Linked DNA regions of Homo sapiens: region 2 is reported to be linked to region 1. Evidence: microRNA targets listed by miRTarBase, many of them from high-throughput screens and not tested one by one. Region 1 holds a microRNA gene; the other region holds the end of a gene's coding sequence.
What was found. Region 1 holds the annotated microRNA hsa-miR-3690 (ACCUGGACCCAGCGUAGACAAAG, at 2,209-2,231, shown strand). A microRNA usually pairs through its seed, bases 2 to 8, with sites in the 3' UTR of a target mRNA and lowers its output. Matches are read on the target gene's strand: a 7mer-m8 pairs with bases 2 to 8, a 7mer-A1 pairs with bases 2 to 7 and ends in A, and an 8mer does both.

Region 1 (4,000 bases):
CACTTGGACCCAGTGTAGACAGGAGGAGACCCTGTACCACCTCCACCTGGACCCAGTGTAGACAAAGAGGTGTCCCTACTCCACGTCCACCTGGATCCAGTGTAGACAGGAGGAGACTGCACCACCTCCACCTGGACCCAGTGTAGTCAAAGAGATGTCCCTACTCCACGTCCACCTGGACCCAGTGTAGACAGGAGGAGACCCTGTACCACCTCCACTTTACCCAGTGTAGACAGAAGGAGACCCTGCACCACCTCCACCTGGACCCAGTGTAGACAAAGAGGTGTCCCTACTCCACATTTACCTGGACACAGTGTAGACAGGAGGAGACTGCACCACCTCCACTTGGACCCAGTGTAGACAGGAGACCCTGCACCACCTCCACCTGGACCCAGTGTAGACAAAGAGGTGTCCCTACTCCACGTCCACCTGGACCCAGTGTAGACAGGAGGAGACTGCACCACCTCCACCTGGACCCAGTGTAGACAAAGAGGTGTCCCTACTCCACATTTACGTGGACACAGTGTAGACAGGAGGAGACCCTGCCCCACCTCTACCTGGACCCAGTGTGAAGGCGACCAGCCCTTCCACACATGTGGGTATTTCTCGTCAGGTGGGACGAGAGACTGAGAAAAGAAATAAGACACAGAGACAAAGTATAGAGAAAGAACAGTGAGCCCAGGGGACCGGCGCTCAGCATACGGAGGACCTGCACCGGTCTCTGAGTTCTCTCAGTATTTATTGCTTACTATTTTCACTATCTTGGCAAGGGGAATGTGGCAGGAGGACAGGGTGATAGTGGGGAGAAGGTCAGCAGGAAGACATATGAGCAAAGGAATCTGTGTCACAAATAAGTTCAAGGGAAGCTACTATGCCTGGATGCACACGCAGGCCAGATTTATGCTTCTCTCCACACAAACATCAGTGTAGCAAAGAGTCACAGAGCAGTATTGCCACCAGCATATCTCGCCTCCAGCCACAGGGCGGTTTTCTCCTGTCTCAGAATAGAACGAATGTACGATCGGGTTTTACACGGAGACATTCCATTCCCAGGGGCAGGCAGGAGACGGAGGGCTTCCTCTTATCTCAACCGCGAGAGGACTTCCTCCTCGGCACAGACCCTTTATGGATGTCGGGCTGGGGGACGGTCAGGTCTTTTTCCCTTCCCACGAGGCCATATCTCAGACTGTCTCAGTGGGGGGAACCCTCAGACAATACCCGGGCTCTCTCGGGCAGAGGTCCCTGCGGCTTTCCGCAGTGCATGGTGTCCCTGGTTAATAGAGAATGGAGAATGGCGATGACTTTTACCAAGCATGCTGCCTGCAAACCTATTGTTAACAAGACACAGCACATGTTTCTGTGAGCACAGTGTTGGGGCTACAGTTACAGCTTAACAGCATCTCAAGGCAAAACAGTGGTTCAACATACAGATCACAATGGAGTTTCTTACCTTCCTTTCTACATAGACACAGTAACAGTCTGATCTTTCTTTTTGTTTGTTTGTTTGTTTTTCTGAGACAGAGTCTCACTCTGTCGCCCACCCAGGCTGGAGGGCAGTGGCGGGATCTCGGCTCACTGCAACCTCCGCCTCCCGGGTTCACGCCATTCTCCTGCCTCAGCCTCCCGAGTAGCTGGGACTACAGGCACCCGCCACCACGCCCGGCTAATTTTTTTGGATTTTTAGTAGAGACGGGGTTTCACCGTGTTAGCCAGGATGGTCTCGACCTCCTGACCTCGTGATCCTCCCGCCTCGGCCTCCCAAAGTGCTGGGATTACAGGCGTGAGCCACCGCGCCCAGCCCCCTGATCTCTCTTTCTTTTCCCTACACAGAGTAGACAAAGAGGTGTCCCTACTCCACATTTACCTGGACCCAGTGTAGACAGGAGGAGACCCTGCCCCACCTCCACCTGGACCCAGCGTAGACAAAGAGGTGTTTCTACTCCATATCTACCTGGACCCAGTGTAGATGGGAGGAGACCCTGCCCCATCTCCACCTGGACCCAGTGTAGACAAAGAGGTGTCCCTAGTCCACATCCACCTGGACCGAGTGTAGACAGGAGGAGACCCTGCCCCACCTCCACCTGGACCCAGTGTAGACAGGAGAAGACTCTGCACCACCTCCACCTGGACCCAGTGTAGACAGGAGGAGACCCTGCCCCACCTCCACCTGGACCCAGTGTAGACAGGAGAAGACTCTGCCCCATCTCCACCTGGACCCAGCGTAGACAAAGAGGTGTTTCTACTCCATATCTACCTGGACCCAGTGTAGATGGGAGGAGACCCTGCCCCACCTCCACCTGGACCCAGTGTAGACAGGAGAAGACTGCACCACCTCCACCTGGACCGAGTGTAGACAGGAGGAGACCCTGCCCCACCTCTACCTGGACCCAGTGTAGACAGGAGGAGACCCTGCCCCATCTCCACCTGGACCCAGTGTAGTCAAAGAGGTGTCCCTACTCCACCTCCACCTGGACCCAGTGTAGACAGGACCTACTCCACCTCCACCTGGACCCAGTGTAGACAGGAGGAGACTCTGCACCACCTCCACCTGGACCCAGTGTAGACAGGACCTCTCGGGTTCAGGGGTGTGTCCTGCGCCCTCGTTACAGAACGATTCAACCCTCCCAGCAATGTCACCGTACGTTGCAACACGACGCACTGCCTCGTACGGTGGAAACAGCCCAGGACCTATCAGAAGCTGTCGTACCTGGACTTTCAGTACCAGCTGGACGTCCACAGAAAGGTCGGTGAGAGCTCCCCGGGGCTGGGCACCAGGAGGGAGGCGTACGGGACACGCCCGCACAGGAGCCTGGGAATCCCGGGGAAGTGGCCTGGGGGAAGGATGCGTGGGTGGTGAGCGGTGACTCTGGGGTGAACGCACTTCGGGTAGCGGAGGAAGAGGTGAAGGGTCTGTGGCCTGTGGAGCCACCTTGAAAGAGGTTGCAGGGAGGGTGGACAAGGATGATCCTGCAACCATGGAACCAGGAAGTGGACCGGGAGGTGTGGGGGACGATGCCACAAGCAAGGAGAGCCTCTGCTCCACCTCCAGCTGGACGCAGTGTAGACAGAAGGAGACCCTGCCCCATGTCTACCTGGACCCAGTGTAGATAGGAGGACACCCGACCCCACCTCCACCTACACCCAGTGTAGACAGGAGGAGACCCTGCTCCACCTCCATGGAGACCCAGTGTAGACAGGAGGAGTTCTTGTCCCACAACTACCTGGACCCAGTGTAGACAGGGAGAGAGACTGCCTCACGTCCACCTCGATCCAGTGTAGACAAGAGGAGATCTTGTCTCACAACCTCCTGGACCCAGTGTAGACAAGAAGAGACCCTGCCCCATGTCCACCTCGAGCCAGTGTAGACAAGAGGAGATCTTGTCCCACAACCACCTGGACCCAGTGTAGACAAGAAGGAGAGCCTGCTCCATGTCTACCTGGACGACAGGAGAACACCCTGCCCCAAGGCCAGTGGGACCTTTCTGGATGGGTTACAGGAAGATATCTGGCCAGGAAGACTTCTGTGTTTGCAGCTCCTCATCCTACCTGTCTTGTAGATTCGGGGTTTGTGGAGGGAGACCTGCCTGCCACTCCGCAGGGACTCCTTCCCATTCGGTGCCCACACCAGGGGAGACACTGTGTGAACCATCTACAGTGTTTTAGAAATGGAAACAGTGAGCCTTGTGTTGTGTTTTGTTTTGTTTCTAGAATACCCAGCCTGGCACGGAAAACCTACTGGTAAGTGAAACCACAGACCCTACTGACAACCCTCAGCGTAACCCTACGGTCCCCTACTCACCACACCTAGTGTAACTCTACAGTCCCCTACTCATGACCCCTACAGTCCCCTACCGACGACCTCCAGCGTAACCCTACGGTCCCCTACTCACCACACCTAGTGTAACTCTACAGTCCCCTACTCATGACCCCTACAGTCCCCTACTGACGACCTCCAGCGTAACCCTACAGTCCCCTACTCACCACACCTAGTGTAAGGAGG
Region 2 (4,000 bases), not on the chromosome of region 1:
CTGTTTCCCAGGCTGGAGTGCAGTGGTGTGACCTCGGCTTACTGAAACCTCAGCCTCCTGGGTTCAAGTGGTTCCCATACCTCAGCCTCCCGAGTAGCTGGGATTACAGGCATGTGCCACCAAGCCCAGCTGATTTTTATATTTTTAGTAGAGATGGGGTTTCACCATGTTGGCCAGGCTAAGATTATTTATAATAGTCTTATAAATGTGTGTTTGTATAAGGGACCACCTGGAGGGTGTGGCGGACCTGCCTGAAATGTTAGATCAGGGATCTGATGGAAAGGGAACTTGGATGGAATTCGGAAGAAGCCATCTTTTATGAAGAATAACAGAGCCTTTTTCCCCTCTCTGCCCTCAAACAGATACTGACAAGTTAAAAAACATAATGCAGGTGGCAGAGCCCAGAGTCAGAGATGTCATCAACAGCATGGAGCATGCTATTGTTTCCCGGAGCCCTCGCATCCGCTACAACCCTGGCCTGGATGCCAAACTCCTCTACATCCCTCTGGCTAAGTTGCCCACCCCTGTGACAGATTTCATCCTAAGCCGGTACCTTCCAAGGCCAGCGGACAGTGTCTAAACTGGGGAGGATCAATGGGTCAGTGGAGCCTAGAAGTGGGGGAGGAAGGAAGGACCGTGGGGTCACAAAAGGTGGTATCGGTTATCCTGGGGGCATTGGCTGCAAAGGAAGCTTGGCTCAGCTGACACCCACTGCTGTCGAATTTACCAGTAACTTCTAACAGAAGGTGAATGCCTCTTCCCACCCTCTGGGACCCCACAGAAACCTGAGGTGGTCTTTGCAGGTTCAGCGATCTGCAGCAATAGCTCCAAGGACGTCTGTCACCCAATCAGGATACAGCTTTTTCTGGTCCTGGAAAAGTCATGGAGAAGAAAACCAGCTCCTGTGGAATCATGAGCCCCTTTCAGTTATCACTGCCACTGAGAAATACTGTGGGATAATCTTGCCTCCAGGAGAATCTAACCACCTTCCTAATGGGTCCCTCAATATGCATAACTTCATTCACATAACCCATTACTGAAGTATGCGGTAGGGCAGATAGGGAGTGCAAGATTAAATCAGACAAAAGTTTAAAATATTTTCTTTCTTTTTAGATTCTTCTATCTATAGGTTATTGGGATCCACATGAAATAACATTCATTTATTTAATCACCATTAATTTTTCAAATATTTATTGAGTGCCTACTACCTACCGGGCACTTTGTAGGTGCTGGGGGAATATAAAGATGATTAAATCATGGTCTTGGTTTTTTATTGTTTATTTTGTGTTTTGCTTTGCTTTGTTTTAGCACAATATCTAGTAGCTGAGTTAGGACAAACAGCGATAGAAGGAATAGAAATCAGAATACAAATTTTTAGAGCTATGAAGGACCCTGGAGGTCTTCATCCAATACTTCACAAGCTTGGCTGTACCTTGTATCACCCAGTCAATTAAAAAATACAGACTCCTGTGCCAATATTAGAAAATCTGATTCAGTAGGACTGAGATAAGGTCCAGAAATATGTGTTTATAACAAGGACCTATATGATTCTGATGCACCCGAGCAACTTGGAGCCACCAATAATTCCATAGAATAAGTAACTTAACACTCAGAGGGGGAAGTGACCTACCCAAGCCCCCAGTTTAGTAACTAAGACAAGGATAGAAATGAGGCATTCAGACTCCCAGACCAGGATTATTTTTCAGTTATAGGAAAATCAATTTCTCAAATTAGTAACACTGTCAAATAAGTCATTGAACTAATTTTTTTTAAAAAAAGACTTAAACTCCTGGGTCATATGAAGTTCTGTGGAAGAGACTTTTTTTTTTATCTTGATAAATGGTCATGTAATAAAGGTCAAATGTGATTTTTTTAACTAAAATATCTTTAATTTGGGTCTCTTCAACATCTGAAAATAATAAAATATAATCCAGGTACATCTGCAAAGACTCCAAATAAGGTAACACTCACGGGTTCCAGGGGTTAGCTTATAGATATATCTTTAGGGAGCTACTGTGCAACTCACTACAGTTTGTTGTTTGCAGCACTTCTATTCCTGGCACCAAATTCTAAATCAGATAGAATGCATTCAACAAGTAACAGAAAAACCAACTCACACTGGCTTAGACAATGAAGAGTGAGGGCAGGGCCCAGTGGCTGAATGATGGCATTGAGGCTGTAGGCTCTTTCTACTTCTTTGCTCCGCTGCCCACAGTTTTATCTTTACCCTTTGTTGCTGTGGTGTGACTGCCAGGCAAAGGGAACTCTACATTTCCTCATTCACAACTTAGAGAAGAAGAAAGAGCCTGCCTTTCCACAGCATTCAACATTGAAGAAGTTTCTTTCTTAGAGCCCTCATCATGTGTCTCCTTGAATCTCATTGGCCCAAATTGGTTTAGGCTTGTCCACCCCTGGCAAAGAGGTAAATTGCCATGAATTGCTTAGATTAATCACGGGACAGATGGGATGTTGGGAAATCAGTCACAATGTCTACTACCTTGGAAAATGCAAAACTCAGACATTATGCTGTTGAGAGGGTTGAACAAAGGTCAAAAATAAATTTTCTGAAGACACAAAAATTTACTAAGGGGAAACTGGCTAGGTAATATTTTGAGATAATAATTTACACTTTTTCATTCCTCCCTGTTTTTTTTTATTTCCCCTTCTTCCATTCAAATAGATAGCCAATTTGGTACTTCTTTACCTAGGGTGAGATGTTTGATGGGATAAAACACATAAATTTCCTGCACTTTTTCCAGCTTTAGTTTCCCCCAACCCTGATATATTTAGAAAAATTATAGAGTTGTGGGAAAGAAGTAAAACAGAATGTGACTTATGGGTGTACCAAATGACTCAGAGAAAAAGAGACTTTCCCCTATGACAAAGAGATTCACTCTGATGAGATAAGAAGTTGATGTTTGGGGTTCCCAGGACAGGAGGGACCAGGGCCCACTTTCTAGAGCACCTTGGGGGCACACCATGGGGAGGTGACAAGACTCAAGAGAGTCACAGCTACATTGTATGTTTAGGCAGATTCGACTTCAGATGACCTCACAGGAGACTCATGTGTCCCACCATGGCAGGAAGGTAGTAGAAATTTGCTAGATATAAAGGGCATGTAGACTGGAACAGCAGACACTAAAGTGGTAACCTTTAGAAGATAGAAGACTTAATTTTTTGGTCTGAGGGCCATCTCTCCACCTCATCATTAATAGCTGAGGTATTTTTTGAACTTATGAGCTGAGATTCATATATGCTCCAGAGTTACATTTTGGTTGATTTCATATTAGAACCATCACCTTTCTTATATAACTTTTGTATTTTCCTGGAGTTTTGAATTGCCTTTTCTTGTTCATTTATTCAGCTTCTTAATCATTTTTATCTCCATTTTTAAAGTAGGGGAGTAATGTGATCTGATCTATATTTTTAAAAGATCACTGGGGGGCTCTGTGGAGACTGAAATGAAGAAGCAATGGTGGAAGAAAGGAGGCCATTGCATAATCCAGGCAAGAGATGATAGTGCCCTAAGCTGAAATGGTGTTAGCAGAAATGATGCTAATAGATGAAGTCAATATATAATTTGGAGGTAGAACCATTGATGGACTTTAATCATTAGTCAGTCTGTCAAGAAGAATTTATCAGGCTCCTACTATGTGCTAAATGTGGTTCCAGATTCTAGAGTTATAGTGGGGTATAAGACAGAGTCCTTGCCCTCAAAGAGTTTACATTCTAACGGAGGGAGGGGTTGGCCAATAGACATATAAAAAGTGAATGAAATAATTTTATATACTGATAAGTGCCATGGAGAAGAGAAAATATAACAATGTAATAGATGACCAGGGAGGCTGCTTACCTTTTTTTCTAATCAACATTAATGAGGTAAAGTTTGCATAAAAAGAAATGCATCCATCTAAGTGTACCATCTGATGAGTCTTGTCACATGTTTACACCTGTACAACCACCACCAGTCAAAATATAAAACATTTTTCTCATCCTAGAA

Region 2: miRTarBase lists SDR9C7 as a target of hsa-miR-3690. Seed matches in the 3' UTR shown: 7mer-A1 at 968-974.

What each region holds. Positions count from the first base shown.
Region 1 is chrX:1,291,719-1,295,718 of GRCh38, forward strand. It overlaps MIR3690 (microRNA 3690), which reads left to right and starts at 2,200; the gene lies at 2,200-2,274. It overlaps CSF2RA (colony stimulating factor 2 receptor subunit alpha), which reads left to right. Exons shown (of 13, transcript NM_172245.4): 8 at 2,610-2,743; 9 at 3,709-3,738. LOC124905238 (a long non-coding RNA gene) reads right to left here and starts at 2,280. Exons shown (of 3, transcript XR_007068370.1): 1 at 2,211-2,280; 2 at 2,125-2,167; 3 at 1,828-1,864.
Region 2 is chr12:56,920,413-56,924,412 of GRCh38, reverse strand. SDR9C7 (short chain dehydrogenase/reductase family 9C member 7) reads left to right here. Exons shown (of 4, transcript NM_148897.3): 4 at 363-1,280. The coding sequence ends at 580. Among named protein-coding and RNA genes, the nearest start is that of SDR9C7, 12 kb to the left of the region's middle.